Homo sapiens: one gene and its partners. The protein of the gene in region 1 purifies or fractionates together with the protein of each later gene. This does not show direct contact. Each region holds a gene or a part of one and is shown in the gene's direction. Other genes may lie near its edges. The genes, in order: STMN4, ANKRD13A, TRAPPC6B, GCA, TRAPPC9 and TRAPPC10.

Evidence for each region.
Region 2: the proteins of STMN4 (region 1) and ANKRD13A purify together in Homo sapiens (affinity purification with mass spectrometry; one large-scale study listed by BioGRID and IntAct). This does not show direct contact.
Region 3: the proteins of STMN4 (region 1) and TRAPPC6B purify together in Homo sapiens (affinity purification with mass spectrometry; 2 studies listed by BioGRID and IntAct, with this or other methods). This does not show direct contact.
Region 4: the proteins of STMN4 (region 1) and GCA purify together in Homo sapiens (affinity purification with mass spectrometry; one large-scale study listed by BioGRID and IntAct). This does not show direct contact.
Region 5: the proteins of STMN4 (region 1) and TRAPPC9 purify together in Homo sapiens (affinity purification with mass spectrometry; 2 studies listed by BioGRID and IntAct, with this or other methods). This does not show direct contact.
Region 6: the proteins of STMN4 (region 1) and TRAPPC10 purify together in Homo sapiens (affinity purification with mass spectrometry; 2 studies listed by BioGRID and IntAct, with this or other methods). This does not show direct contact.

The regions. Positions count from the first base shown.
Region 1 is NC_000008.11:27,247,274-27,252,459, reverse strand, and holds part of STMN4 (stathmin-4), read left to right. Parts: intron 1-5,186. UniProt on the Homo sapiens protein: Exhibits microtubule-destabilizing activity.
Region 2 is NC_000012.12:110,029,717-110,034,902, forward strand, and holds part of ANKRD13A (ankyrin repeat domain-containing protein 13A), read left to right. Parts: intron 1-928; coding exon 929-1,042; intron 1,043-2,730; exon of another isoform or gene 2,731-2,994; intron 2,995-4,080; coding exon 4,081-4,241; intron 4,242-5,186. UniProt on the Homo sapiens protein: Ubiquitin-binding protein that specifically recognizes and binds 'Lys-63'-linked ubiquitin. Does not bind 'Lys-48'-linked ubiquitin.
Region 3 is NC_000014.9:39,152,465-39,157,650, reverse strand, and holds part of TRAPPC6B (trafficking protein particle complex subunit 6B), read left to right. Parts: exon of another isoform or gene 1-529; intron 530-3,356; coding exon 3,357-3,440; intron 3,441-5,186. UniProt on the Homo sapiens protein: Component of a transport protein particle (TRAPP) complex that may function in specific stages of inter-organelle traffic.
Region 4 is NC_000002.12:162,356,716-162,361,901, forward strand, and holds part of GCA (grancalcin), read left to right. Parts: intron 1-42; coding exon 43-190; intron 191-2,328; coding exon 2,329-2,442; intron 2,443-2,778; coding exon 2,779-2,837; intron 2,838-3,501; coding exon 3,502-3,528; 3' UTR 3,529-5,186. UniProt on the Homo sapiens protein: Calcium-binding protein that may play a role in the adhesion of neutrophils to fibronectin. May play a role in the formation of focal adhesions.
Region 5 is NC_000008.11:139,726,225-139,731,170, reverse strand, and holds the end of TRAPPC9 (trafficking protein particle complex subunit 9), read left to right. Parts: coding exon 1-110; 3' UTR 111-3,446; downstream 3,447-4,946. UniProt on the Homo sapiens protein: Functions as an activator of NF-kappa-B through increased phosphorylation of the IKK complex. May function in neuronal cells differentiation. May play a role in vesicular transport from endoplasmic reticulum to Golgi.
Region 6 is NC_000021.9:44,017,791-44,022,976, forward strand, and holds part of TRAPPC10 (trafficking protein particle complex subunit 10), read left to right. Parts: intron 1-5,186. UniProt on the Homo sapiens protein: Specific subunit of the TRAPP (transport protein particle) II complex, a highly conserved vesicle tethering complex that functions in late Golgi trafficking as a membrane tether.

The DNA.
Region 1 (5,186 bases):
TTTTTGATGGGGTTGTTTGTTTTTTTCTTGTAAATTTGTTTGAGTTCATTGTAGATTCTGGATATTAGCCCTTTGTGGCGATTCCTCAGGGATCTATAACTGGAAATACCATTTGACCCAGCCATCCCATTACTGGGTATATACCCAAAGGACTATAAATCATGCTGCTATAAAGACACATGGACACGTATGTTTATTGCGGCATTATTCACGATAGCAAAGACTTGGAACCAACCCAAATGTCCAACAATGATAGACTGGATTAAGAAAATGTGGCACATATACACCATGGAATACTATGCAGCCATAAAAAATGATGAGTTCGTGTCCTTTGTAGGGACATGGATGAAATTGGAAATCATCATTCTCAGTAAACTATCACAAGGACAAAAAACCAAACACTGCATATTCTCACTCATAGGTGGGAATTGAACAACGAGATCACATGGACACAGGAAGGGGAATATCACACTCTGGGGACTGTTGTGGAATGGGGGAAGGGGGGAGGGATAGCATTGGGAGATATACCTAATGCTAGATGACGAGTTAGTGGGTGCAGCACACCAGCATGGCACATGTATACATATGTAACTAACCTGCACAATGTGCACACGTACCCTAAAACTTAAAGTATAATAATAAAAAAAAAAAGAAAAAAAAAGATGGCAAAAAAGAAATTTTTTTTAAATGTAGATTCCCTTGCTTTTGTAAAAGCCCTGGTTTCTGGCTTATGTAAAAATAGTAGACAGAGGGGAAAAAACCTAGAAGAAAATGCCAATAGCATAAAGTAGCAAGACTACAAGGATTTATTTTCTTTTTTTCTGTTACATAGAATTTCCAAAATATAATGTGAATATGTTTGTAATTAAAGCATTATTTATAAGATGCACATATGCCTATAGATGTAATCATAAAGCAATATTCAATCACATTGTTGTTATTGGGAGTAAGATTAAAAGGGCTTGCCCTGTATATTGATGGCTTCATGTGCTTTTAACCCAGGACCTCACAGAACTCCTGGGTCACATGCCTTGCACACTCTCCAGCAGCCCAGAATGGAAGTCCATGCCCCTGAACTTGACTTCTGTGATGCTGATTCTTCTGCATATGTATATATATAATATATATACACGTATATACGTATATATATAATATTATATGTATATATATATACGTATATACGTGTATATATATATATTTATTTTTTGAGATGAAGTCTCACTCTTTCACCCAGGCTGAAGTGCAGTGGCATGATCTCAGCTCACTGCAACCTCCACTTCCTGTGTTCAAGTGATTCTCCTGCCACAGCCTCCCGAGTAGCTGGGACTGAGACTACAGGCATGCACCACCACGCTGGGCTAATTTTTGTATTTTTAGTAGAGATGGGGTTTCACCATGTTGGCCAGGCTGGTCTCGAACTCCTGACCTCATGATTTGCCTGCCTCAGCCTCCCAAAGTGTTGGGATTACAGGCATGAGCCATCGCACTCAGCCGCTTCTGCATATATTAAATTGGAAATAAAAATTGCCCAGAAAATCCCATCATTGTGGATTATTTGGGGCTGTCACTTTTCCAGTTTAATTTTCCTTCTCTGACTTGCCTCTTAACATAGCTGTTAGTGCTAAGAAGGACTCCTCAGATTCAGGCCTTCAGAGTTCTGCTTTTGTCATAGGTGCTTATTTCCTAGAAGCCTAAGCCTGTTGGGTACCCTCTGGGAGTTGCCCTTGTCCAGGTCCCCATCATCTCTTCCTCTAGATGCTGTTGGAAGCAAGAGCCTAAGAGGTGATTAAACAATGCCAGTTTCCCCAGACCCAGTGAATCACACACTGTTCTGTTTTGCCCAGTTTCCCTCTGTAGGTCTCGCTGGTTCCTTCTTGGTCTGCACTCTAATTCCCACTCCTTCTCCCTTTATGGCATGGTCCACATTATCGCGGAAGACCATGCTGAGGCCCGCAGAGCATCTGCAGAGCCTCCAAAGGCTCCAATGGCTCTAGATACCCATCCAGGGACCTGTTTTACTTTTCCACCAACAAAAACTCCTGTGGTTATTTTAGGATCTAGCAGAGGGCTTGGCACATAATTAAATACTCAGTAAATATTGTAGAAAGAATGAAAACCACATTTATGAAAAAATAATTTATCTCCTTTTGATTTTAAACCCAAAGAAGACACATGGCTGCCAATCAGAGCCTTTTGATCAGCATGAAATAACCAGGGCCACTGTTCTGAGCTGACATGATTCATCCCAAAGCAAATAAATGTGGCATTTAGATAGCTTATGCAGCTAATTTTGGGTAAATATATGACCTCAACTGGATTTTGAAGAAGATTGGCAATAGGGCACAGACTTAAAGAACCACCTTCCTGTACTGCTTGTGGTTAGAGGACCTCAGGCAGAATTCATTGCCCCCACAACCATGAGGTATTCATCCTGATTCTTGGCCAGAGTTTCTAGATTTGTCTTCCGAAACCCTTGCCAGGTACAACTCTGTTCAAGCCACTGGGACATGCATTATCTGCTCATCCCTCAAAAATAGTCCAGATGGAATTTGACACATCCTGCAAGCATTCTTGGGGCATTTCTTACAGTGACCAATAAAATGCTTGTTCATTCTGTCGTATGGGCAGTCAGAGGCACTAAGAGGTCAGGCATACACCCAGTAGGTGGCCACGTGTCATCTGAGAACTTGGTGCTTTTCTGTTTGCCCCCTGGACATCAGCTGAATTACGGAAAGCCTGGAAGTGTGGGTTGCATGAAAGTGCCCTGCTGGGGTCTCCCTTCTGTGTATCCATCTTCTCATTCAGAGCTGCTCTGGTGACCATGTGGGCTGTCCCCTCTCATCCAGGATGGTGTTTGGGGACAGAGAAGGAGCAAGTATAAAGGAGAAGGGCATTGACACTGGAATCCATCCAATCTCTGCCAGGAGTTCTCTGCGTGACCTCAGAATCTTTGGTCCCCAAGTAGGAGGCTATTGGCATTTTGGAAGGGACAGTTGTTTATCGTGTGGGACTGATGTATACAATGCAAGACATTTAGACTCGCCAGCCTCTGCCCACTAAATGCCTGTAGCATCCTCAGTTTCATGACCATTGAAAAGTCCCATGTAGTTCCCGGGAGTGAGACTGCACTGAGTCGAGAACCATGGGCTTGTGATTGCCTGTTCTCTCCATCTCTGACATTCAAATGTTCTGGGTGAAATCGAGGGCTCTGATCTCTTCACTTTAACCACCTTTTTCTCCCCACTGTCCCACCGTGAGATCCCTCCTCAGTCAACAGCCTACAACTTCACTCTCAGCCACGTCTGCCTCCAATCAAAACTTACTCATTCTGTGTTTCCTTACGGCTGGCTCTGTGCTTGGGGGGGGTTATCACCCACTAATTTATTTCTTAACAATTATGCTAATGGTTCAAGCCATCAACAAAAAGCTCTGGTTCCTTGCTTTTCTGTACAGACTCTTAGATGCTGGTGCTGGGGGAAATGTATGGATCAGTTTGTAAATGGAAAAATAGTGCTGGGTGAGATGTGAAAACTTCAGAGTGGAACTCAATCCAGCAGGTCCAACCCACACTTTGTACCCAGACTGCTATTTGGCTTCCAGCCTATCCCTCCTAATTTTTCCCCAAACGAATGTTGCCAGATGAATCTTTTTACACTCGCAGCAGAACCTAAAGACAGAGAGGCTTTCCAATGAAACACATGAGGACTCAAATCCCAGCTCTGCCCCTACCTACCTGTGTGACGACGGTATAACTTACTTAACTGCTGAGATTCAATGTCCTCATTCTCAAAGAACCTAATAGAAAAATGAGATAACAGCCGTGCTTTTCCTGCCCAAGAATGGTAGTTGTTATTATTGCTATTATTATCAGCATCACTGTTCTCTTCTCCCCTCATTCAAAAGATGTCAGTGGCTTCCTACTGGGTGGGAGATAAAGCACAAAGTCCTTCACTGGTCCAGAGGTCTCTGCAATTTTCCAGTTCCTATTCTAGCATTCTGTCCCACTGCACCCTGCATGCAGCCCAGTGGGCCTCCTGTGTTCCTGAGTAAACCCAGTCCACATCCCTGGCACACAGTCAGGTTCACAGTCATTGCAAGGTGATAGGCACTGCAGAACCTCAATTGCATAGTAACCTCATCACAGTCTGGGATGAGGCCACACTCGAATCTTTGCCATCTGAAGATCTAGCAGAGGGCTTGGCACAGAATTATATACTAAATAAATAAATAAATAAATAAATAGAGTCCTCTCTCTACCTGCTCCACTGGATCAATCCCTGCCAGCACAGGGGCTCAGCTGCCCAGGGAGGCCTTGGCTCTTGACCAACCAGTTTGTGTCCATCAGAAGTGCTTGACAGTGACCACCAGGCAGGAGCTGGAGGGCCTGCCATCCTGAGCTCTAGCTCTGGTTCTGGATATTGGCTGAATGACTGCCACATTGACCTTCTGTCTGGGGCTCCTTTGATCTTTGTTGCTGCTGGATGCAATGAATTTCCTGGTCTTCCTTAGGGGCAATAGAAGGGCTAGGATTGGCTCTCACCTAACAGAAAACACATAAGGAACCTCTGAGGGATGGGGATGGAGGTTTGCTTCTGCACTGGGTTTTGCCTTCCATTGCTCTGCTGGCTGACGTCTTGGATAGAATCTCCCATTGAGGATTTGCACTCCTTGCCTCATGCTTCCTATGGCCTCTATTGTCTCTTCATCTTCATCATGCCACCTGAATCCCTGGCACTCTGTGTGCTCTGACCTTGGGCATAACACCTTTACTGTCCTTCTTTGACAGTTCCAGGAGAGGTTTGGTGGCCCTCGCTCCCTTGCAGGCTGTATATTGCTGTGGCATGATAACATGACCATGGCCATTTAACAAACCCCACAAGACAACCTAGCATCACACAACCAGGCCAGGTGCTGGGGAGGGACATGTGACTGGCCCCACTGGGCGCAGATGCCACAGGTTATTAGGGATAAAGTTGGGTTTCCTGCCATGGCTGGCGCCACCCAGTGGCAAAGACTCCTTTCATCTCTGTGCCCTCTGCTTCCCACCTTTTTATCTTCTGTGTCCTTTCTCAGAATGTCCCCTGGGCATATCTTTTGGGTCTTGAGTGCAAAAGAAATGATGTGACTGTTGGCATGAGGATTTATAAGGGCCCTATGGACCCACAGGCACAAGTAAATAGATCATC
Region 2 (5,186 bases), on another chromosome or scaffold:
AGGGAATTGGAGTGCTTTAGGTCAAAGTAGCTTATAGACATAACAGAGGAGGTCAGAGTTCTCCTGTGGTTTGATTTAAAGAAGTGTTATGATTAGTGGTTCATTTTGTGTATCAAAGTCAAGAGATCTCCAACCATCATTTCTATTTGCAAATGGTGCTGACAGATATAAAAAGGCATAAAAACATGACACAGTCATTGTTTTAATGTCAAACCTTAATTCAGTGAGACTTCAAATTAGATAATTATTTGAGGAAGACAGTTGACACCAAGATCCTTTGATATGTAAATATGATCTACGTCCCAAGCTAGTATGCATAATGCTATATATGTATATATCATACATACTACTCATGAAGAGTATTAATTTTGGATAGTTGTATGTTCATGATACTTGAACCCTGGCTTGATCACTTACTCACTGTGATCTAGGAGAAAATACATAACTCATTTTCTCTTTTTTTTTTTTGAGATGGAGTCTCGCTCTGTTGCCCAGGCTGGAATGAAGTGGCATGATCTTGGCTCACTGCAACCTCTGCCTCCTGGGTTCAAGCGATTTTCCTGCCTCAGCCTCCTAAGTAGCTGGGATTATAGGCATGCATCACCACGCCCAGCTAATTTTTGTATTTTTAGTAGAGATGGGGTTTTATCATGTTGGTTAGGCTGGTCTCGAACTCCTGACCTCAGGTGATCAGCTCGCCTTGGCCTCCCAAAGTGCTGGGATTACAGGTGTAAGCCACCGCGCCTGACCGAAAATACACAACTCTCAATCTCAGTTTTCCCGTCTGTGTATTGGGAAGGGTTGTTATGAGGCTTAAATAAAATTATACTTATCAAAGTACTTGGCATAGTAAGCACTTAGTAAATGATAACTATTATTGTTATTCTCAGTAAAGTTTACTTATAAAAGTTTTTATTTTGTTTGTTAGAAATTCCCTTGTTTCATGTCTTAAATGCACGGATTACATTTGGAAATGTTAATGGCTGTAGCACTGCCGAAGAATCTGTATCTCAAAATGTGGAAGGGACCCAGGCTGATTCAGGTAAAAAAATAAATAAATACAAAGTTTAGTTTTGTTATTTAAAAAAAAATTTATGGCCGGACGTGGTGGCTTATGCCTGTAATCCCAGCACTTTGGGAGGCCGAGGTGGGTGGATCACCTGAGGTCGGGAGTTTGAGACCAGCCTGACCAACATGGAGAAACCCTGTCTCTACTAATAATACAAAAATTAGCCGGGTGTGGTGGCGCATGCCTGTAATCCCAGCTACTCGAGAGGCTGAGGCAGGAGAATCGCTTGAACTGGGGGAGAGGCGGGGGGATGGAGGTTGCTGTGAGCCGAGATTGTACCATTGCACTCCAGCCTGGGCAACAAGAGCAAAACTACATCTCAAAAAAAAAAAATTATAATTCAGTCATCATATTCATAATTCACTCTGAAGCTGGAATATCTGAGGGAGTAGATGTCTGTGTTGGATGAAAGAAAATTTCAGATTTAGTTTAGATTAAGCAAAAAAAAACTTGTAGAATATATATGATCCTAGTTATATTAAAAAGAAAGGATGTTCTTAAAAATCAGCTTTATTGAGGTGTAATGTACATACAATAAAATGCTCTCATTTTAAGTGTGATGGTTCAGTGCATTTTTTTTTTTTTTCTCAGAGTCTCACTCTGTCACCTAGGCTGGCATGCAGTGGCACAATCTCTGCTCACTGCAGCCTCTGCCTCCCAGGCTCAAGCGATTTTCTTGCCTAGTCTCCCAAGTAGCTGGGAATACAGGTGCGTGCCACCATGCCTGGCTGATTTTTGTATTTTTATTAGAGACTGGGTTTCACCATGTTGGCTAGGCTGGTCTGGAACTCCTGACCTCAAGTGATCCACCCAGCTCGGCCTCCCAAAGTGCTAGTGTGAGCCACCATACCCAGCCACATTTTGACAAATGTATGCATCTGTGTAACCACCACCATAGTCAAGGTAGACAGCATTTCCATATGCCCCCAAATTTCCTTACACTCCTTTGCCATCAATACAATTCATGATTTTAGATGCAATTGTAAATGGACTTATTTTCTTAATTTCATTTCCAGTTACTAGTATATAGAAATATAATTGAGTTTTGTATTTTGACCTTGAATCGTTTTTAAAAATTTTTTATCTTTTTTTTTTCTTACACAATTGCATGGCCAGGATTGACCTTGTTTATCTTGTAACATGGCTGAATTTACTTGTCTTACACTTTTTTGTAGATTTCTTAGAATTTCTTACATATATGGTCATGTTGTCTATTAATAAAGAAAATTTTACTTTTTCCTTTCTAATCTTTAAGCTTTTCATTTCTTTTTCTTGACTTACTGGACTGGCTAGGACATCTAGTACAATGTTGAGTAAGAGTGGTAGGAATGGCTGTCCTTGTCTTGTTCCTGGTTCTAGGGGAGGAAGGATTGTTGTGCCATTAGGTATGATGTTAGCTGTGTAGGTTTTTTATAAATGTCCCTTATTAGTTGGAGGACATTATTCTCTTATATTTCTAGTTTGCTGAGAGTTATTACCATTTTTAAGTATTGATTTTTGTGAGATGTGTTTTCTGCAACTATCATGATGGTCCTATGTTTCTCCCCTGTAGTCTACCAGTAGGAGGAATTAAAAGATAGCATTTTAATGTATATAAATTAAGACTTCAAATAAAAACAATTGAACTCGACAATAATATACACCTTTACATTCCCATGTAGCAACAAAGTTGGGTGAGATGTGTTCATGAGGTTGTGCAGCTAAGGAACACTCGTGCACTCTTGGCTGGAAGAGGAGATTGGTATAGTTCCTTGAATAAAACATTCGGCATTACTGTATAAACTGAAGATGTGGATGACCTAGCAATTCCTAGATGTGTACCCTAAAGAAAGTTATGCACATGAGCATCTGGAGACCCCAGTACTGGGCAGCAGCATCCATTCATAACAGCAGAAACCTGGAAACGACCCAAATGTCCCGAGATGGTAGAATGCGCTATTGTGCTCTATTAATACAACAGAATAACATATAGTATTGAAAATAAAAATTTATAGCTATGTGCGTCAAAACTGTTGAATTTCAAAAGCATAATGTTGAATGAAGAAAATCCAATTTGAAGAATAAATTCCGCATGATTCCATTTATGTCGAGTTCACAAACAGGCTAATACAAACTATTAGGATGATATACATGTGGCAAGCTCCAGAGAAGAGCTAGGCAGTGTAAACAACTATTCTGAATTATGTATTTACCTCTGGAGAGGAAGAAGGGAATATTGTTAACAAGGGATGTGCCCGCAGTATGGTATTGATAGTGTTTTTTTCTTTTTCTTTTTTTTTTTTTTTTTTGAGACAGTCTTACTCTGTCACCCAGGCTGGAGTGCAGTGGTGCGATCTTGGCTCACTGCAAGCTCCGCCTCCCGGGTTCATGCCATTCTCCTGCCTCAGCCTCCCGAGTAGCTGGGACTACAGGTGCCCGCCACCACGCCCGGCTAATTTTTTTTTTTTTTTGTATTTTTAGTAGAGACGGGGTTTCACCATGTTAGCCAAGATGGTCTCGATCTCCTGACCTTGTGATCTGCCTGCCTCAGCCTCCCAAAGTGCTGGGACTACAGGCGTGAGCCACCGCGCCCGGCAGTTATTGATAGTGTTCTGTGTCTTAGGCTAGGTGAAGGGCACACAGGCATTTGTTTAATTATTATCATTTTTAAGTGTTCAGATATTTTATATATACTTTTATATATTTACCATATATCTTCCTGCAAAAGGAAGAAACACATTGGTGTGACTGTGCGTATATGTTTAGGGGGAGAAATCTGCGCTTTTCATTTTATAGTCTTGTGTATTTTTTTATGACTGTGTTCGTTGTTTCCACTAAAATCAAGGAAAAAGAAAAAAGCTGTATTCTGTCACTTTTTTCTGTCATGCTTCCTCAGAATCTCTCATATAATAGTAAGCCTTGATTGTTATAATTTTGAGCCTTTCTTTTTTTTCTAATGTACAACATTTTTGCAAAAAGTTGGAGTGGAAATGTAATGAACTCAGACACTGGACGGTTGCCTTTTGTTTCAGCTTCCCACATCACAAACTTTGAGGTTGATCAATCTGTGTTTGAAATTCCCGAATCTTACTATGTTCAAGACAATGGCAGAAATGTGCATTTGCAAGATGAAGATTACGAGATAATGCAGTTTGCCATCCAGCAAAGTCTGCTGGAGTCCAGCAGGAGCCAGGTGTGTTTATCAGAATACTCTAATGGCAGGGCGTGGGAGGTCTTACCCTCTGGGTTAGCCTCAGTGTTTGGCTAATCTGAAAGATTTATTCTAAATATCAAGTTTGACACATTCATGGTATTTGCATAGGTTATACTTTGTGCATCTGGTCTTCTTACAAAAGCTTGTTATGTAAGAGACCATCTACATAATCCCAGTCAGCACCATTCACAAGATGTCTTCAGGCAGACTTTCCTTTTCCTCATATTCACGCACATAGCTTGTAATTCTGTACTTTTTGAGATGTGCTTCATCATTTTCTAGCACTGAAGCAGTATCATATTTTTCCTGAAGGATTACCTGTGTGTCAGTAGTCTCGGATGAAGGTAGTGAAGTGGATTTGAATCCCACTTCCTCCACAAAGGGTACCATCTCCCTAAACTCTCTCTGGGTCTCTAGTGAAACAGAAAATGAAGGACAGGACAGACCTGTGTAAGCAGTAGGCTTTGTGTGTGTGTGTGTGACTCTATGTTGCCCAAGTCGGAGTGCAGTGGCTGTTCCCCGGCATGATCATATTGCACCCTCAAACTCCTGGGTTCAAGAGATCCTCCCACCTCAGCCTCCCAAGTAGCTGGGACTAAAGTCATGCACCACTGTGCCCAGTAGAACAGTTGCCTTTTATTGTCATATCTGGTTCTCCCTCCATGCCTCACCTACCTGGGACAGTCCAAGGCTTGAGGTCCTCCTCCCCTAACATCAACTCCTTCCATCTCCTTCCTTCTGTGCCTCCTGGCTCTACTAGGGTAGGGTCTGGTCTGCCTCCAGCACCCTCTGGTGTGTCCTGGGTTCCTGCAGTCCATTTATTTGTTAATTGGCTTTTTCTTCCATTCTTCATTCAGATATTTGCAGAGTACCTTCTTTGTGCCAGGCTCTGTGCCAGGTGCTGGGAATTCTCTGGGAAGCAGC
Region 3 (5,186 bases), on another chromosome or scaffold:
CTTCTTGTGGATTAGACATCCCAGTCTTGCCTTCCCCTTGATAATGCGGTAAGGGACCCCCATTTTATGACACAAGGCAGGCAGGAAGACAGCCACCTCGATGGGATCCACATAGTGTGCAGTCACCACCAGCTGAGCCTTCTTGTTCTCCTCCAAGGTGGAGATGGTGTTAACTCCTGCTCGGAGGACAAGTGGTCTCTTAGTGGGGACATCCCCTTTGCCTGCAGCTTTCTTTTCAGCCCGGGCCAATAGCCTCTGCTTATTTTCTTGCTTTGTCTTTGGTCTGTACTTGTGGGCCAGCTTAAGCAGCTAAGTAGCTATTTGGCGGTGCAGGGCCTGGGTGAACTGGTTAATTGTAGGAGGCACTTTCAGCTGCTTACAGAGGATGGCTTTGTGCCACTGCAACCTGATATAGCGGGGCCATTTCACAAAGTGAGTGAGGTCCATATTGGGTGGATGTCCTGTCCAATGCCAGAATTCTTAGGCCTTTTCTCAAACAGGGGATTCACCACTTTCTTTCTTTCTTTTTTTTTTTTTTTTTTTTGAGATGGAGTCTTGCTGTGTTGCCCAGGCTAGAGTGCAATGGTGCGATCTCGGCTCACCACAACCTCCGCCTCCTGGGTTCAAGCCATTCTGCCTCAGGCTCCCAGGTAGCTGGGACTACAGGCATGTGCCACCACTCCGGCTAATTTTTGTATTTTTAGTAGAGGTGGGGTTTCACCATGCTGGCCAGGCTGGTCTCGAACTCCTGACCTCAAGTGATCCGCTTGTCTCGGCCTCCCAATGTGCTGGGAGTACAGACGTGAGCCACCACGCCCAACCAGGATTCACCACTTTCTTGGCCTCCTGTTTCTTCATGACACCAAGGGCCAGAGCCACCTCCTTCCTCTTGGCCTTTCCTTTTGGCATCTTGGGTGGCAGGAAGAGATTCTTTATAGTCATTTCTAAAGTCTAATTTATAGAGCATTTTACTCTTAAATAACTCCTGGATTATTACTGCTGTCATATTTTCTACTCTTAAAAGATTTTCTTACTACAAAATTAATAGATTACATAGAAAACTATGTATTTATTAAAATTTTAAAAGGGAGACAGAGTCTCGCTTTGTTGCCCAGACTAGTCTTGAGCTCCTGGACTCAAGTAATTCTTTGGCCTCAGCCTCTTGCATAGCTGGGATTATAGGCATGCACCACCACTCCCAGCTTCATTAGATTTTATTTTATGAACTTCAAGGAAATACTTAGAGTAGATTTGGAATTTTGATTAAGTAAAAAATTAAATGTATCTGGTACTCTCAATAGGATAATTCATTTATTTATTTATTTTTAATTAGAGACAGTGTCTCACTATGTTTTCCAGACTGGTCTCAAACTCTTGGGCTCAATGGATCCTCCCGCCTTGGCCTCCCAGAGTTCTGGGATTACAGGTGTGAGCCACTGTGCCTGGCCTGGAATTCATTTTGTACCAACTTTAGCTTGGAATTACTGGAAATGCTAATAGGAAGAAATGACTATGATTTTTTTACTCTCTAGACATGATTTACTAATATATATCAGCTGGCTGGACATGGTGGCTCATGCTTAGAATTGCAGCATTTTGGGAGGCTGAGGCAGAAGGATTGCTTGAGCTCAGGAGTTGGAGACCAGCCTGAGCAACATACTTAGAACCTATTTCTACAAAAAACTTGAAAAAAATTTCACCAGGCATATTGGTATGTGCCTGAGGTTTCAGCTACATGGGAGGAGTTCAAGGATACAGTGAAATACTACACTTTTGCCTGGATAACAGCAAAATTCTGTCTCTTAAAAAAATAAAGCTGGGCGCGGTGGCTCACCCCTGTAATCCCAGCACTTTGGGAGGCCGAGGTGGGCAGATCACCTGAGGTCAGGAGTTCGAGACCAGCCTGGCCAACGTGGTGAAACCCTGTCTCTACTAAAAATACAAAAATTAGCCAGGCATATTGGCGCACGCTTATAGTCCCAGCCACTCAGGAGGCTGAGGAAGGAGAATTGCTTGAACCCGGGAGGCAGAGGTTGCAGTGAGCCTAGATCACACCACTGCACTCCAGCCTGGGCGACAGAGCAAGACTCTGTCTCAAATAAACAAATAAATCCGGGTGCGGTGGCTCACGCCTATAATCCCAGCACTTCAGGAGGCCAAGGCGGGTGGATCACCTGAGGTTGGGAGTTCAAGACCAGCCCTGCCAACATGGAGAAACCCCGTCTCTACTAAAAATACAAAATTAGCTGGGCGTAGTGGCGCATGCCTGTAATCCCAGCTACTTGGGAGGCTGAGGCAGGAGAATCACTTGAACCCAGGAGGCGGAGGTTGTGGTGAGCTGAGATCGAGCCATTGCACTCCAGCCTGGGCAACAAGAGTGAAACTCTGTCTCAAAAAAATAAATAAATAAAAATAAAAATTAGGTCGGGTGTGGTGATCATACATGTAATTTCAGCACTTTGGGAGGCTGAGGCAGGAGGATTACTTGAGCCCTGGAGTTCCAGACCAGCCTAGGCAACATAGGGAGACCCCCTTTCTACAAAAAATTAATAAAACTAGCCGGGTGTGGTGGCATGTGTCTGTGGTCCCAGCTACTCGGAAGGCTGAGGCAAGAGAATTGCTAAACACCCAGGTGTTTGAGGGTGCAGTGAGCTGTGATTGCACCACCACACTCCAGCCTAGACAACAGAGTGAGAGCTCATGTCTAAATAAATAACTATACAAACAAACAGCTTATTTCATGTGGACATGTATTAATGATTCCATCGTACTAGACTATGAGTTTTTAAGGATAGGGACTATGTCTCAGACAGTGTTTTTATCTTCAGTGTATAAAACCGTTCGGTATACATTAGTGTTGTGAAAATACTGAACTCGCAACTCTTCAGCTTGAACATTGCAAAACTCCTTCATTTAAACAAAATTTGACCAGGCTGGGCACGTGGGCTTATGCCTGTAATCCCAGCACTTCGGGAGGTCAAGGTGGGCAGATTGCTTGAGCCCAGGAGTTTGAGACCAGCCTGGGCAACATGGCGAAACCCCATCTGTACAAGAAATATAAAAATTAGCAGGGCATGGTGATGCACGCCTGTAGTCCCAGCTACTTGGGAGCCTGCGGTGGGAGGATTGATTGAGTCTGGGAGTTGGAGGCTGCAGTGAGGCGTAATTGTGCCACTGCATTCTACCCTGGGCGACAGAGGAGACCCCGTCTCAAAGAACAGAAAAAGAAAACTTGGCCAATGGGAAGGAGACTTTTAATAACTTTAAAAAACACTTAAATTGTTTCATAAGAATAAAATAATTTTAAGGACTGCTAGGTACATTGACTTTGGATTTTTTTTCTATTTTTGGAACAGGGCATCTATGTACTTCAGGACAACAAATTTCGCCTGCTTACTCAGATGTCTGCAGGAAAACAGTATTTAGAACATGCATCTAAGGTATTTAATGGAATAGAAGTTGGGGTTTTTGTTAATAGTAGGACTACAGGGAAAAGTACAGTGCTAATCATAACAAACTATTGAATTAAAAATATGTTTTAAGGTGTTCTTTTTTGTTTAAAGAGTTTTCTATGAAATGAGAGACATGTTACAATAACACTAAACTGTAGCTAAATAGTCATAGAGTGACCAATTAAAGAAACACTGGCCGGGCGCTATGGCTCACGCCTGTAATCCCAGCACTTTGGGAGGCCAAGGCAGGTGGATTACCTGAGGTCAAGAGTTCAAGACCAGCTTGGCCAGCATGGGGAAACCCTTTCTCTACTAAAAATATGAAAAATAGCTGGACGTTCTGGCGAGCGCCTGCAATCCCAGCTATTCGGGAGGCTGAGGCAGGAGAATCACTTGAACCCGGGAGGCAGAAGTTGCAGTGAGCTGAGATCGTGCTATCATTGCACTCCAGCCTGGGGTATAAGAGCAAAACTCCATCTCAAAAAAAAAAAAAAAGAAAAAAAAGAAACACTATAACTAAATGACAGTGAAATGTAGATGTATGGTAGATCACTTTTTTTTTTTTTTTAAGACAAGGTCTTGCTCTGTCATCTAGGCTGGAGTGTAGTGGTACAATCATGGCCTATCTTGACCTTGACCCCCCCGGGCTCAAGTGATCCTCCCACTTCAGTCACCCAAGGAGGTAGGACTGCAGGTGTGGGCCACCATGCCTGGCTAATTTTTAAAAAAATTTTTTAGAGATGGGATCCCACGATGTTGCCCAGGCTCGTCTTGAACTCCTGGGCTCAAGTGATCACCTCACCTCGGCCTCCCAGTGTGTTGGGATTACAGGTGTGAGCCACTGCATCCGGCCTGATTGCCTATTTTCTATATTTTTGGGGTATCCAGGCTCTAATTACATTTTTATGGTTAATGTGTATATTTTCTCTCTTTTTTTTTTTTTTCGGACAGAGTGTGAGACTCACTGCAACCTCTGCCTCCTGGGTTCAAGTGATTCTCCTGCCTCAGCCTCCTGAGTAGCTGGGATTACAGGTGTGCGCCACCATGCCTGGCTAATTTTTTGTATCTTTAGTAGAGACAGGGTTTCACCATGTTGGCGAGGCTAGTCTCAAACTCCTGACCTCGTGATCCACCCACCTCAGCCTCCCAAAGTGCTCGGATTACAGACGTGATTACAAAAGCCACCCAAAATGCTGGGATTACAGCCTCCCAAAGTGCTGGGATTACAGACGTGATTACAAAAGCCACCCAAAATGCTGGGATTACAGCCTCCCAAAGTGCTGGGATTATAGGCCATGCCTGGCATATTTTCTCTTTTTTACTAACTTCTTAGTTTAATATTTCTGGTTCTCACTTAACTTTTTGGGATCTTGGTTTCTTCAGCTGTGAAAAGAGTAAGTTGGACCAATTCAGTGATTTCTAACTATTTTGAGTTATGGACATCTTTGAGAACTGGAACACCTTTCCCCATAAATACGCACATATACATGGTTTTTATTTTCATAGGGGTCACAAATTCCCCGATTAAGAACTCTTGGGATGAACAATCTCTAAGGCCTCTTCCAGCTTAAAATTTCATGACTCAGATCTAGTTACTTATTAGTGCCCATTTATGTATATTATTTATAAGATAATATTTTATATTATTCGTAGATAATGTAGTATGTTGAACATCATGCAGTATAGATGTGGGTAATCAAAAATTCCCTGAATTGCTAATTTTTCAATCCAGTT
Region 4 (5,186 bases), on another chromosome or scaffold:
AACTCAGGTATCAGAATTTATTTTTGTTAATAAAACTATCAGAGAGATCACACAGGAAAAATGGGATTTAATGCATTCAAAGAGCTATGGGCAGCTCTTAATGCCTGGAAGGAAAACTTCATGACTGTTGATCAAGATGGAAGTGGCACAGTAGAACATCATGAGTTGCGTCAAGCCATTGGTCTTATGGGTAAGAACATTAACATTCTTTAGAATCTATAAAGCTAATCTTTGTTCTTTGATTAGATGAACTTAATTGCTTCAATTTACTAACTAATAAAGGGATGTATTTTTTTGCCAGCAAGTTCCTTTGTTTGTTTTCAAGGTTGTAGGTAAATTCTGACCAAAGACCTCAACAAAACCATTTTAATTATGATTTTTTTCAAAAGATGATCTTCCATACATGCATACATTCTGAATTTCTTCTGTTGTGTTTAAATTTATTTCTTTGTTAGTACTTACCAGTTAGATTGTATTCTTTTATAACTTGGCAGGATATCTAATTGGGAGCCAAAGCTTGCCTCAGTCAGTCAAAAGTCTGTACAAAATAGGTTTTCAGTGGTAGAAACCATGTTTTTGTCTTTTTTTTCTTAGATAGTGCAGAACACATAGCAGGTGCCAAAATACATCAGGATGGAAAGGTTGCATTTTAGAGTAATTTAGAAGTATATAACTTTATTCTTATACCTCTGATAAGCTGATGTTCCTAGTGTACTTTTAAAATGGATAACATACAATGGTGTTTAATTTGCTTAAACTTAATGCAGTTTTAAGTAGCTTTATGAATTGTTCTTATGCTTGTGATTTACACTCTTCTAAACAAAATCTATTTGTATGAAAATTAATTTTTTGGAAGTTAAAATCTGAACCCAATGGAAGTGGGCTTATCTCAAATTGCAATTTAAATAAGTCAAATTAGTGATTTGTTTGGTTTTGTTTTATAAATAGACATTTTAATTTAGTAGTAGGGACAGTCCAGCCCATATAAACATATGTAGTTCAATTATAGATCCTTAATACCTAATGGATTAAACCTGGACCTTAATTCAGCCTAATGTTGGGAAATTAATGTAATCTTTGGCAGAAAAGAAAACCTCCAGAGTTCCCGTTAGGCAGTGGAATGTAAAAAGGGTATTCTGGATTATCCAAATTTAAGATCTTCATGTATATTTTAAAATATTCAAATTATTTTTCTGAGAATACTATGGGAAAATCTAGGAATTTTATCAGTACCACATTTAGCTCATAACTCTCTAATATGAAGTTCAAAATATATTTGCATATAATTACATTAGTTTGCATGTTTTACTGCTTCTTTCAATTTATACCTTTCCCACATTACATTCTATTATAGCTGCATGTATAATTTTCTCCTGTTACATTTATTTTGGTTGTTTTCACCTTTGAATTGATTAGTGTCATTTGTTCAAGTCTACAAATCCAGTAATGTATGGGCAATAATACTGGGCTACCATTCTTCTTAGTAAAATGTATACATCTCATTAAATGCATAGGACCATCTATAAGGGTACAGCAAGTAGAATATATTAATTTATGTTTTTATTCAGTTGTATTCGTTTTAAATTTTAGATTTTATGTATTTTTTAAAATAGGAGTAATCAAACAATAATACATGTATAGAATTTAAAATTAATTTAAACATACTGGGAGTGAATGATCAAAAACTTCTTTCTCATTGATATAAGTAAAAATCAAAGATTTTGGACATCACAGGACTACTGAACAAAGAACCAAGGAAATCAGTGAAATAGCGAGAAAGCTGTTATTATTATTACAGTGTATGAAGAAACACTAAGAATTCCAGGACAAAAAAGAATGTTTTTCTGTTTTTTTCCCCTGTAGAGTAATCATGTTGATCCTCAAATTTCTCTTAGTTATAAAAGATACTTGCAAGTAATATGTTCAGTGGGAAATATCATTTGAATAACAAAGATCATTAGTAATCTTTGCATTTATATTCTTTAAGAACTATACAAAGTTACATACTTGAAATATTGAAGCATTAAAACCCATGAAATTAGACATTATTTCAAAATAACAATATATGATAAATTCATAAGAAGAGAATTATTTTCTTTTCCTTAGCTTTGACTTTATTACAAAGTTAGAATTGTGATATTTATATACCGATTAACAGGATTAACAGTGAAGCCTTTGTCTGATGAATTTCAATATTCATGTGTTTTGTTTCTAATTATATTTTTGTGGAATGAATTTTGAAAGTTATTTTATGACTTAATGAGAAAGCAATCTTGCAGTGTTCTTATGTTATTTACATTTAGAAGTTTTAATTTATCTCTTTTTTAGGTTATAGGTTGAGTCCTCAAACATTAACTACTATTGTTAAACGTTATAGCAAGAATGGCAGAATTTTCTTTGATGATTATGTTGCTTGCTGTGTGAAGCTTCGAGCATTGACAGGTATTGACTATTTAAAACTAAGTGCACAGTGTTATGTAGCTATTTTTCTTGAATAATGTGTCTCATTTCCTCCAGCAAGTTTATAATAATATGTGTTTTCTCCCTTTATTCACTGTTAAATCTAATTAGTTTAAAGGCTTCAAATATTAAGGAATATAAATGATAAAAACGTTATGTTATTTTTGGAAGTTTTTCTCATATCTCTGTTGCCAGGGCTATTCAATCACTTAATATTTAATTGAATATGAAATTATTCTTTTTGTGTACCTGGGTGCACTAAATATTTGAAACTATGTATTTTAAATTACAATAAAAAAGTAATTTCTTTGTTTAAAGATTTCTTTAGGAAAAGAGACCACTTGCAACAAGGGTCTGCGAATTTCATATATGACGATGTGAGTATCCTGCTTTTGATATTTATACTGCATTCTAGATAGTTCTCAGTTAGTAAAAAAATTTAAGTGATCCCAAGTACCAGTACTGGAAATAATATATTTGGTATGCCACATACTTTTCCATATTTTTCAGTGTAACACAAATATAAGATTAATATTGGTATAGGTGCCAAACAATTTGACTTCATGTTAAATTGTAAATATGCTTTTCAATTTTTATGACAGGTTTTTTGAATTAAAAAAAAAATGATCTTTCAAATCACTTTTAAGGGCCAAAACCACCATTATTTTTAAAAAGGGTAGTTTACTGTAGTGATATTTTTTCTCAGGGAGGGAAAAATTTTAATCCGTGACGGATTATGAAGCTGTTCATTTCTCATTTCAAATGGTTACTATTAACCTGATATTCAGGGTTTTTTAAAATTCAAGGTATAAGACAGTTATATTTACCTGTGCTTTAATGTTTCAGGGTTTTTGTTTTGTTTTTCTTATATTTACTGATGGAAGTTATGGGGTCAACATTACTGATATTTATTGGCTTGAATTATAAGCCTTGGAAACAAACTTTTCTCTCTTAAGAAAATGCTCTTATGGAATATAATTAGTCAAAAATAATTAAAAACCATTTTATTCTTAATAGATAATAATTTCACTTATGTATTAGTTTTTGCAGGGCACTATGGCAATTTGAATGCTTAGAATTTTAAACCTGAAGAGACACTGTGAATTCTTTTGTTTGGAAGAAGTGAACTGGACTACTTTAAAACTTTTAAGGGTTTTCTATGTTCTTCCTACCTGTTAAACCTCTTCCCTTTCTGTGTGTTTTTATTTTAGCAGATAGTTCAAAGCAATAAAAGATTTCTTTTTTAATTTGAGGTATTACTGCTTTTGGAAAAGTTATTTTATAAATATGTGCATATTGTCATAAAATATTGTATGATTAATTGATTTAAATAATGCTTAGCCTTAATTTTAGATAATGTAAATTTAGAGGAATGTACTTTACAAGATAGATTGTATAAGAAGCCAAATAATGAAAGCCTAGAAAAAACTAATTTATACTTATCTGAAGGTTACAAATTAGACTTTTAAATTTTCTTTGTAGTTGGTGGTGTTTGAGGGTTGGCTAGAAATGAAAGCCTGGATTTTGTGCCATGTTTGTAATATAGTTTGTTCCTTGATCAAATAATCAGAGAAAAGAAACTTAAAGATCTTTGTCTGTGAAGAAGAAAATTATCTCCCTAGTTCAATCTGTAGTGAAATAAGACTACAGAAGGCATTGTTTTTTCCTTTTTTATTTTTTGTATTATATATTTTTCTTAAATATGTTTTATTGTCTTCTCTAAGCAAAAAGTTCTTAATAAACATAGTATTTCTCTCTGCGTCCTATTTCATTAGTGAAGACATAGTTCACCTAAAATGGCATCCTGCTCTGAATCTAGACTTTTTAGAAATGGCATATGTTTTTGATGATATGTCAACATTCAAAATTGTCCTAATTAAATTGTTGTTTAAATGTAATGTCAACTCTTTATAAACTTAAAAATAAACAAGTAATTAACCACTCTAATTGTTCAGAAATTTTACATTTGACTTATTTGACAACATTAACATTAGTGGTGGCTTTGCCATTAAAAACCCAGTAAGTATTTTGAGTGCATCTATGTGATGTGGTGTTTTGAGCATAGTAGGCACCACAGCAACTTTTCTGCGTGGTACTAAAACTGCCGAAAATGCGACGTAGAATCACCAGATCTTTAGTGTTTAATATCCCTGGTATAAGATGTTATAATTAATGTAATTTCTTTCTTGGCAAACACCTCATGTCTGTCTTAGTGAAGATTTAATAAACCACTTATTTTTCTTATGCTTTAAATGTGTATTTTCTAACCTAACAGTGAGTGACATAATTTTATGACTGCTGACCAAATTAATTTATAGATTTTATAAAATCCCATGTTTCTTAATGGATGGAGGATAGATGGCAATATCTTGAACAAAATCTTTTATAAACTTACAGAATTTTAAATCAGCCTTCACTTAAAAAAATCCTGGAAAGGAAGTAACGCATAGTCACTTGACACTGATAATTTTATATAATTTGCTGTCAAATTCACTTGGTCAGTTTTATAAAAATGTGTGAATAGGTAATACACATAATTTTGTTCTCTGGCTTTTTTATGAACATATATTTGATAATGTGAGAGGACATTAACTGAGCTGGGAAATTAAAGAAACAGAATTCTAATTAGAAGTGTTGTAGGAAAAAGCAAATGTGAAAACACTAAGTGTCGTTCACATCGAATGGTGATAATGTCGCTCAGCAACCTGTAATCTTAACATCCAGGT
Region 5 (4,946 bases), about 110 Mb from region 1:
ACTTCTTCCTCCACATCCGGTTCCACGAGGACAGCACCAGCAAGGAGCTGCCACCCTCTTGGTTCTGCCTGCCCAGTGTGCACGTGTGTGCCCTGGAGGCGCAGGCCTGAGCCCGCCTACTTCCGTCCCTCTTTCTGCAGGGCCAGAGGTGACCCTGCCTGGCCTCCCACACCCCCTGCAATGAGCAAGGCCTTCACTGCAGCCCCATCTCCTCCTCCTCCCCCAGACCCCTCCCAGCCCTCTCCTCCTGTTCCTCCTGTAGCATCTTTGCTGGGCTACGCAGAAGCCCCGGACATGGCAGCCCCACCCCATGCCACGCCCCTTCCTACACTGTTCCCTGGACCATACACAGGCTGAAGCAGAGGAAATCCCAAAGCGGGTGCCCATCCAGCCCAGGTCCCAGGATCCCTGCACCCATTTCTGTGACCTGGGGCCCCAGCCGTGCTGTGCTGCTCATCCCAGCAGAGGGACCTCCCTCGTCCAGCGACTTCCCTTTGGCCATAGAAAGAAATGGTGAGCATGAGACTGGGCACAGCCTGAGGGCGTGGGCAGCTTCCCACCCTCCCTGGGCCTTGGAATCCCCCAAGGCTGGTTTTCTTCCTGGAGACCCCCATGGGCAACTTGGCAGGAGAGATGGTGCCGTAGGAGGTCGTGGATGGTTGATGCCAAGAGAGGCCCTCCACCCGTGGTGGGCAAATGTCCAGGCCTGGGCTGGCAGCCCAGGGCTGTTTCTGGGTGCTCCCTGGCCCCAGGGTGGCGTCTGGTTACCATGGCTGTGTGTGTCCATGTCTGCAAGCAGTTCTTCAATAAATGGCCTGCCTCCCCCTCCCTGCCTCCCTGCATCTGCTAGCCCAGTGCAGTCCGGGGCCCCCACCCAGCCCGTCAGCCCCCACCTCAGGTGGCTGGCTTCCCAGCAGAAGCCGGACCCAGGAAGGGACGGGTTCTGAGTTAGAGATCTCACATAAGCAAACGCTGAGACAGGAATCTGGTCACCAGCAGCTTGTCTGGGAGGTGGAAGGAGGCCTGCAGGGGAGGGAGATCACCAGTGAAGGAGTGTGACTGGGCCCGAGCTGCCGCCACAGTGGGCAGCTGGCCCTGCGTTCCTCAGGGAGGACCGGAGAGAGAAAGCACACGGCTCACATCTCCCTTGAGGGCCAGAGCTGGGGTGTGTCTACACTACCCACAAGAGTCCTGTTCTGGGGGCAGGCTTCTGGCTGTGTTGACCCTTAGCTCCCCAGGTCCCAGGGAGGATAAACAGCCCTTGGTCCCCAGCAGATACCAGGCTCGTCAGGTGCCCGTTGGGCACTGAAACTCCCATGGAGTATTGGGGGACAGAGAGCGGGGCTTCCTAAAGGCCAGTTGGCCAAACAGGCAGAGCCAGGAAGTGGCTGCCCTGGCCTCCCATGGGGCAGAGTCATGTTGGCATCAGGAGGCCTGCGGGGCTGAGGGAACTTCCTGAGGACCTGAAGTCCCAGGCCCAAACCTCCCTCGCTGGGAGCAAGGTCACCCTGTGGCCTCCGGCCTAAGGAACAAATTTTTTGTTCCATCTGTGGCCTCCTGTTGTCGCTCAGTGAATGATGGGAGCACACTGTGATGTGGTGTGGGCTGGGGGCATGTGGGGGCGGGTGTCCAGTGGCCCTCAGTTCCTGGAGCTCATTCAGCATCTGCTCGAGGCTCCCCAGGGAAGGCAGCCCCAGAAGGTCTGGCTGCAGTAGGGGGTGGAGACCCCAGGGCGGTCTCTTCAGCCCTTCCGTTCAGGATGCCTCAGCGTAGTTGAGGGCCTGGCCACCTGGGCTGTTTCTGAATGGAACAAACAGCATCCATGTGTGTCAACCTCAACAGAGCCCAAAAATACGCCATTGAATGAAACAACACATTGCAGGATGATGGGCTCAGCCCAACCTCACTTGTGTAGACAATGTCCCCCCAAATTATAAATTTTCTATGCCTCAGAACGTGTCTATAACAACATGTTTAAAAGGTAGAAAGGATACACATCCCCTGTAGAAGAGTGACCTGAACTGGAGTTGCATTTGACATCTGATGTCAGCATGAGGGTGCTGGTCACCGGGGACTTGAGTACGTACTTTCCTTTCAAAAGCACAATAGATCAAGATACAGGTACACACATAGCTACAGATATAGATCCAGCCACAGATCCAGATTAGATATAGATGCATATAGAAGCCTAGAAAAGCCAATATGGAAAACTCTGGCAGTGTTTGATTCTGAGTGGCAAGCATATTGGTGACTGTAATTATTTCTTGCAGTTTTCTATATTTTTTAGTTTCCCAAACTGCAAAAAATACCCACAACAGTTACCAGAGAAAATGCTGGATGCCACAAGAAGGAAGAACCTCAAGGGGCAGGAGGCAAAGTTGTCTTCTTGGAGGAGGGGGTGTTAGAAATAACCCAGGCCTCCTGGAAAATGACCCAAATACAGCCTGGCTCTGCCAGCCCCAGGCCCTTCCCCACCCCCAGGGCACCCTTTCTGTCCCAGTAGAGAAGGTGACCTGGAGTCAGGCCTTGTGTGTGCTCCAAGCGTTTGGAGCTTTACCGTGGGATGTGGGGAGCCAGGGGTGTTGTTTGCTGGCATTTCTGTGGCTGGGTCTTTCTGGCTGTGGAGCTGTGTTTGTGGGCAGTGGCTGAGATGGAGGACCTGGGGCAGGTGTCTCAGTGACAGCGCAGTATCCTCCAGCCTCTTCCAGGGCCCCACGCTACTGGCTACCTGGCAATACAGTCCAGCAGTTGCTGCTTCTCTAGGCCCCTGGTGCATTCAGAAACCTCCTGAAGGCCAGCGGAGGGTAAGCCAGGAACAGATCATGTCCATTGCACTTCACTAGCTGAGCGAGTTGGTTCTGCCCTTCTGATCCTTGGTCCCTCAGGGCCAGGACAGGCCCGGTGACCCCATAATCATGCAGCCGTCATGCTCCGTCATCTGAAATTCACAAGGAAGGCAAGGATTCAAAGGAAGATGTCTGAGATGCTGAACTCCAGCTCAGCCACTTGTCAACTCCTTGACCTTGGACAAGTTACTTAAATTAAGCCTTGATTTTTTTTCATCTGAATAAATAGAGATAAAAATACTTATTTCATGGACACTTTCATATCAGTTTATTTGATTTAACCTCCTAGATTTTTTTTTAGCACATGATAGCAACTTCTTAATAAATACTGGGTCCCTTCTCCTAGCCTTCCCATTGCTGTTCTTTTTAATTCCATCCACATGTCCTGTGCCTGAAATATCCTGTGCCATGTGCCTGAAATTCCATTCTTCTCCTGGAACCCTTAACAGGCCACATTGCTATGCTCCGTTAGTCCCCTGCATGGCTTAATGTATTAGGTAACATGAAGCATGTAAGGAAGAACTTTCTAACACAGGTGCTGAAATGGGACAGGAAATGCTGATGGAGTGAGCTCTTTGTCAATAGAAGTATTCAAGCAAAGTCCGGACCTGTAGATGGTTTCAAAACATGTAAGCATCATTTGGGGCTTCTGAGCCTACCAGCCAAGAAATTGTCAATGATGACTTGTTAAGAGGTATTTCTGATCCCAGTAAGCAGGGAAGAGAGAGAGATGTATGTGACCACATGGCTCTTGGGGCCTCAAGCAATGTCTTAAGACACAATAAATTTTGATCAAAAAAGGCTTTCAACATGAAGGGCTAGAGATCTAGACTAAGGGTCTAGGCTAAGCCTCTTACTGAAAACACATTTGTAAGTGCATCCATGACCCGGCAGGAGAGTCAGAAATATTCACCCCAGTACCTGTGTGTAGGCAAAGTCCTGGGAGGTGAGCTGTGCACTGATGCCAACTTCCACTTTGAGGGGTTTTGCCAAAGCTGGAGTATCAATGTCTTCAGCCTTCCAAAACTGGAGGAAAGATGACAAAGCTCAGGGCCCACTGGCTGGGGAATCGAATAGATGACTGCTCCGCATCAATTTGAGAGCCTAAAGATTACACCTTTAGTAAAGGATGAACTAAAAATAATCCTCTTCCCACCCTACTAGGAGAGTAGATATAACACTTCCCTGTCTTGACCCTTTGATTCCATCTTGACCCTTTGATTCCATATTGACCCTCCCATGAATTTGCAGTCCCAAATTACACTCCCTAACTGCCTCTTCCAAACCTTAAGTTGTTAATTAATTTCAAAGACAGACAGCACTCCATAATACAGGTACCAGACAAAGAAATAAACACATCCTTTCTGGAGGAATTCATTTTTATCCAAAAACCTGCAAGAGTTTCTATGAGGAAAATGATTATTTCAGAGTTTAAAAACAAAGAAAATCATGAAATACACAAGGAAGCAATGCATCATGAGTGAGAGCTAGGAGAGACAAAATCAGCAAATGCAGGGTTGAAAAGGAATCATACTGGACTTATCAGACATAGACTGTGCTTAACATGTTATAAGAAATGAAAAAGATAAAAATGGGTAAAGAGCTAGAATATCATAAAAGAATCAAGCAGAACTTCTGCAACTGGAAAACAGAATTGATGTGAAATATTTAATGAATAGCTGAAAGAGCAGATTAAACTCCGTTCAAGACAGAACTAGTGAATGAAAGGTAGAATTGAAGATGTTATTAAAAACAGAAACCAGAAAGACCAGAAAATATGAAAGAAATGTAAGGAAACATGGAGGACAAAGTGAGAAACTCTCAAATATATCTAATTGGAGTTCCTGGAGGAAAAGATAAAAAAATGGAGAAAATGCAGTATTGAAGAAACAATGACTGAGAACTCCTTAAAACTCATAAGGATAAAAATCCACAGATTCAAGAAGTCAAAGAAATTCCTAGTAGGATAACATTTAAAATACACAGTTGACACATCATAATACAATTTCAGGAGACCAGATGCAAAGCAAAGGGATGATTTTTAAAAGAGAAAGACAAGAAAAATTACTTCCCTAAGAGTGGCAATTAATTGACAGCTGA
Region 6 (5,186 bases), on another chromosome or scaffold:
ACCCTGTTTTGCGACGATAATGATGTCATCGAAAGAAGTGGAGCCCTGATCTGATGTTGACACTGTGAATACCTTGTGTGGGGTTCCTACACCACAAGCATTGCTGTTTCCCTCATAAATTTAAAATATCTCTTGGTGCCTCTCTGCGTAGTGTGTGGGAAGCCTAGGTACACAGTTTGGGAACCCGTGCTGTTAGTGTTATTAGCCCAACTCCAGGGTGGATTTGAACTGATACTTTAGAATTGAAAAGCTTCCTTTCTTTTCAGCTCACACACCTACTTTACTACAAGATGTGTTTCTGAAGAGTTTCTAGTAAGTTCTTTATGCAAATGAAATGGAAAGGTCTGATTTTCTTTTTTTTTTTCTTTTTTTCTTAAGTGCTGATGAATCTCTGAAATAATCAAGTATGATACAGCTTGGGCAACATAGGGAATTCCTATCTCTACAAAAATGAAAATAAAAAAGTTAGCCAGGTGTGGTGGTGTGCGCTTGTACTCCCAGCTACTTGGGAGGCCGAGGCGGGAGGATCACTTGGACCTGGGACGTCAAGGCTGCAGTGATCTGTGATTGTACCTCACACTGCAACCTGGGTGACAGAGCAAGACCTGGTCTCAGAAAAAAAAATAAAGGCTGGGCGCAGTGACTCATGGCCATAATCCCAGCACTTTGGGAGGCCAAGGTGGGTGGATCATGAGGTCAAGAGATTGAGACCACCCTGGCCAACATGGTGAAACCCCGTCTCTACTAAAAATACAAAAATTAGCTGGGCGTGGTGGCTCGCGTCTGTAGTCCCAGCTACTCGGGAGGTTGAGGCAGGAGAATTGCTTGAATCTGGGAGGCGGAGGTTGCAGTGAGCCGAGATCATGCCACTGCACTCCAGCCTGGCGTGAGACTCCGTCTCAAAAAAAAAAAAAAAAAAGTATGTCGGGCATAACACATGAACCAGTCTTTCCTTAGAGAGTTTTTGCTGTGTGCTTCCACCAGAGGCCTGCCAACTGACAGTGTGATTGTGTGGCTCACTCTGGCTGAGTTGGTTATCTTTTAATGGAAATACAAATAACTGACTTAAGGATTTTTTTGTCGTAGGAAAGTTTGTTGCCAGTTGACAGAGTGTCTTCCCTGGAGTCGCATGCCTTAGTGTGTAAGTGTGTGGTCTCCAAAGGTATTGCACACTGATCTCCAAGTACTGACCCTCCCACCCCCGTGCTCCACTCTAGACCTGGTGGCTTTAGATCTGGAGTTAGAGACCAGCAACGGCAGAAGATTACAGGGTCTTTTTTTTTTAAGACATGGTCTCACTGTGTCGCCCAGACTGGAGTGCAGTGGCATGATCTCGGCTCACTGCAGCCTTGACCTCCTGGGGTCAGGTGATTCTCCCACCTCAATCTCCCGAGTAGCTGCTTGTGTGCCACCATGCCCAGTTAATTTTTTGTATTTTCAGTAGAGATGGGGTTTCGCCATGTTGCCCAGGCACGTTTTGAACTCCTGGATTCAAGCAATCCGCCCTCTTTGGCCTCCCAAAGTGCTGGGATTACAGGCATAAGCCACTGTGCCCAGACAGCTGCAGGGTCTTAAACAGTCAAAACATTCCCACCTCAGTGCCTGCCTCTGTGGTGGGTTGCCTCAGAGCTTCCTGTGGCTTCCTGTCCTGTGTCTCACCTTCTTTCTTCCTCAAATCTTTCCTCTATCTGCTCTTAATGTCAAATATAGTCACAGTATTTTGGCCTTAGAGAATATTTGTTTTTAAATTAAAAATTGATAACCTTGGAGTCATTTATGACTTCTTTTTTCTCTCACAACTGACATTATCTTTGAAATATATCTAGAATCCAGCTATATATAGGGCCTGCCTGGATAATCTGGGATAATCACATCTTGAGCTCCTGAACTTAATTAAGTCTACAAAGACCCCTTTCCCAAATAAGGTGACATTCACAGGTTTTGAGGGTTAGGATGTTGTGGGGCACCATGCCACCTGCCGCACCACTGTCTGTGTTAGCTACCAAGCGCGCAGTGGCCGGCATTCATCAAGCGTCTTTGGTTTTAGACAGCTGCGTCTGTCTTTGGAGGTTTGTCCTTCGTGTACTCCTGACCGAGGGAATGTTATCTTGACATTTGGGCTTCTGGGTTCTAGATGTGGTTACAAGGTGGGGTGATCCCTTCTTAGGAAAAGTCCAGCCTCTTCTGTGCTCTCTCCCTTATGTGGCTTTTTGGACATTTGTTACATGGTGTTTAATTTCTGAATATTATTTTAGGCCCCTGTTTGCAATTTTTTTTTTTTAACAGTGACCAGGGACCATTCCATTGTATGTTTGGACATTTTTCTTTTCTTTTCTTTTTTTTTTTTTGAGACAGAGTCTCGCTCTATTGCCCAGGCTGGAGTGCAGTGGCGTGATCTCGGCTTACTGCAAGCTCCGACTCCGCCTCCTGGGTTCACGCTATTCTCCTGCCTCAGCCTCCCGAGTAGCTGGGACTACAGGCGCCCACCACCACACCTGGCTAATTTTTTTGTATTTTTAGTAAGGATGGAGTTCACCGTGTTAGCCAGGATGGTCTCGATCTCCTGACCTTGTGATCTGCCCGCCTCGGCCTCTCAAAGTGCTGGATTACAGGCATGAGCCACCGCGCCTGGCCCATTTTTCTTATTTTTAACTGAGATCTGTTAGCAGTTTGAAGCGATTGTATACATTTCAGAGTTAGCTGGGCATGGTGGTGCGTGCTTCTAGTCCTAGCTACTTGGGAGACAGGCCAGAGGATCGCTTGAGCCCAGGAATTTGAGGCTGCGGTGAGCCATGTTTGTGCCACTTCACTCCAGTCTGGGCGACAGAGTGAGACCCTGTCTCAAAAAACAAAAAACAAAAAAAAACAATTTCAGGGTTGAAATTTTTAGCAGAGCCTTGGAACTGACAACCACCTGTTTGGATAGTAACTTTAACTCAATCTGTAGCTTGCCATTTGTGGGCACTGTCAGTTCACCTAGACCAGTCAGCAAGCTCTAAACATCCAGGTTAATGAGAAGGGCCGTCAGAAGTCATTTTGAAGTTGAGGAGCTGAGGGCTGGTTTTGCTGTGACTGGCCATGATCAGTGTAACTGTTTAGTAGCACAGCTCGGACCAATATTAGCATGTCTGATGACTCCTGCTTTACCAAGTACTTAGGGAAGGCAGACACCATCTGTTCACATGGAAGCAGGGAGTTTGTCCCTAAAATTATGCTTCTGAGAAAGCCTTTGCCATATAATTAAATAAAAATGTCACTTTAGCATTCTAAGAATTGAGTAAGTAAGCTATACACTAGAAATTTTTAGTATAGTCTTATTCCAAAATTAAATTCCTATTCTGAGAACTTGATACCCAGCACTGTCTTTGCTTCTCCTGTAGTCTGTTCTGTCCTTTGGGGATCCTGGGTTGTCTAGTGTGGAGTATGGAGGAGTTGGGCTGTTTTCATCAGTGAGCAAACATTTACGGAGGACCTATTACATGCCAGTTACTGCTGAAGGGGCTTGGGTTATGTCAGAGAGCAAAGATCCCAACCCTTTGAGAGTTTACATTCTGTCAAGAAGAGATAGACAATAGACAAATAATGTTAGGTGACAAGTGCTATGGAAAAAAGAAAAAGAGAAGGATAAGGGAAATGGAAGAACTGTAACATTTCACATATTTTATTATAAAAGTGCAATATGTATCAAAGTAGACAGAATATTATAAAGAGACCCTACAAACCTTTCACCCAACTACAGCAATTAGGTGAACTGCCCAATCTTGCTTCTCTATACCCCTCATTCTCCCCAGTCTTATATTATTTTGAAGCAAATCTCAGACATATAATTTATCCACGAATGGATGTTATGGACTGAACATTTGTGTCCCTCCCTACACACCGAAGCCCTGACTCCCAGTGTGCTAAGAATAGGAGATGGGCCTTTGAGAAGTACCAGGGCTAGATGAGGTCAGGAGGGTGGGCCCTTTATTATTGGATTAGATGAGGAAGAGTGAGAGGACACCTCCCCCTTGAAACGAGGAAAGGCCACCTGAGGATAACAGCAAGGAAGTGGCTGTCTGCAGTCTGTAACACAGGCCTCACCAGAAACCTAATCTACTGACACCTTGATCTCGGGCTTCTTGACCTACAGAGCTATGAGAAAATACATTGCGATTTTTTTTTTCTTTCTTAGGGTCTTTTCAGAGAGAAAACAAAAAACTGTTTTCTAAGCCACCCAGTCTATGGCATTTTTTTTTCTTTTTAAAAATTTCTTTCTTTTTTTTTTTCTTTCATGGTATTTTTTAATTACACCTAAAACGTTTCTTTCTTTCTTTTGTTTTTGTTTTTGTTTTTGAGATGGAGTTTCGCTCTTGTTGCCCAAGCTGGAGTGCAGTGGCACAATCTCAGCTCACTGCAACCTCCGCCTCTCGGGTTCAAGCAACTCTTCTGCCTCAGCTTCCCAAGTAGCTGGGATTACAGGCACATGGCACCATGCCTGGCTAAATTTTTTTTTTTTTTTTTTTTTTTTGAGATGGAATTTCACTCTTGTTGCCCATGCTGGAGTGCAGTGGTGCGATCTTGGCTCACTGCAACCTCCGCCTCCCAGGTTCAAGCGATTCTCCTGCCTCAGCCTCCCGAGTAGCTGGGATTACAGGCGTGTGCCACCATGCCCAGCTAATTTTTTTTTTTTTTTTTTTTTTTTTACAAAGACGGGGTTTGTTAGTAGAGATGGGGTTTCTCCATGTTGGTCAGGCTTATCTCGAACTCCCGACCTCAGGTGATCCGCCCACCTTTGCCTCCCAAAGTGCTGGGATTACATGTGTGAGCCACCATGCCTGGGCCTAAAACGTTTCTTAATACCAAATATTCAGTGTTTAAGTTTCCAGTGTGTCTTAAATGTCCATTTTTAAAACTGTTTGAATTAGTATCCAAATACAGTTTTTAGATAAATCCTTTAAGTCTCTTAAAATCTTCATGTTCCCTCTGTCTCTTTTTTTTTCTTTATAACTTGATGAACCTGGCTCATTTGTCTTGAAAAGGTCCCACTGCCTAGACTTTGGTAGTTGGAGCTGGAGGCTGGGTCAGCTTCAGGCTGGATTTTTTGTCGGCAGGACTTTATCATGGGTGTTGCTGTTCTTCCAGCAGGTGCGTGATGTCCGATTACCTCTCCTTTTGGAAATTGGCAGCCATTTATTTTCACATCA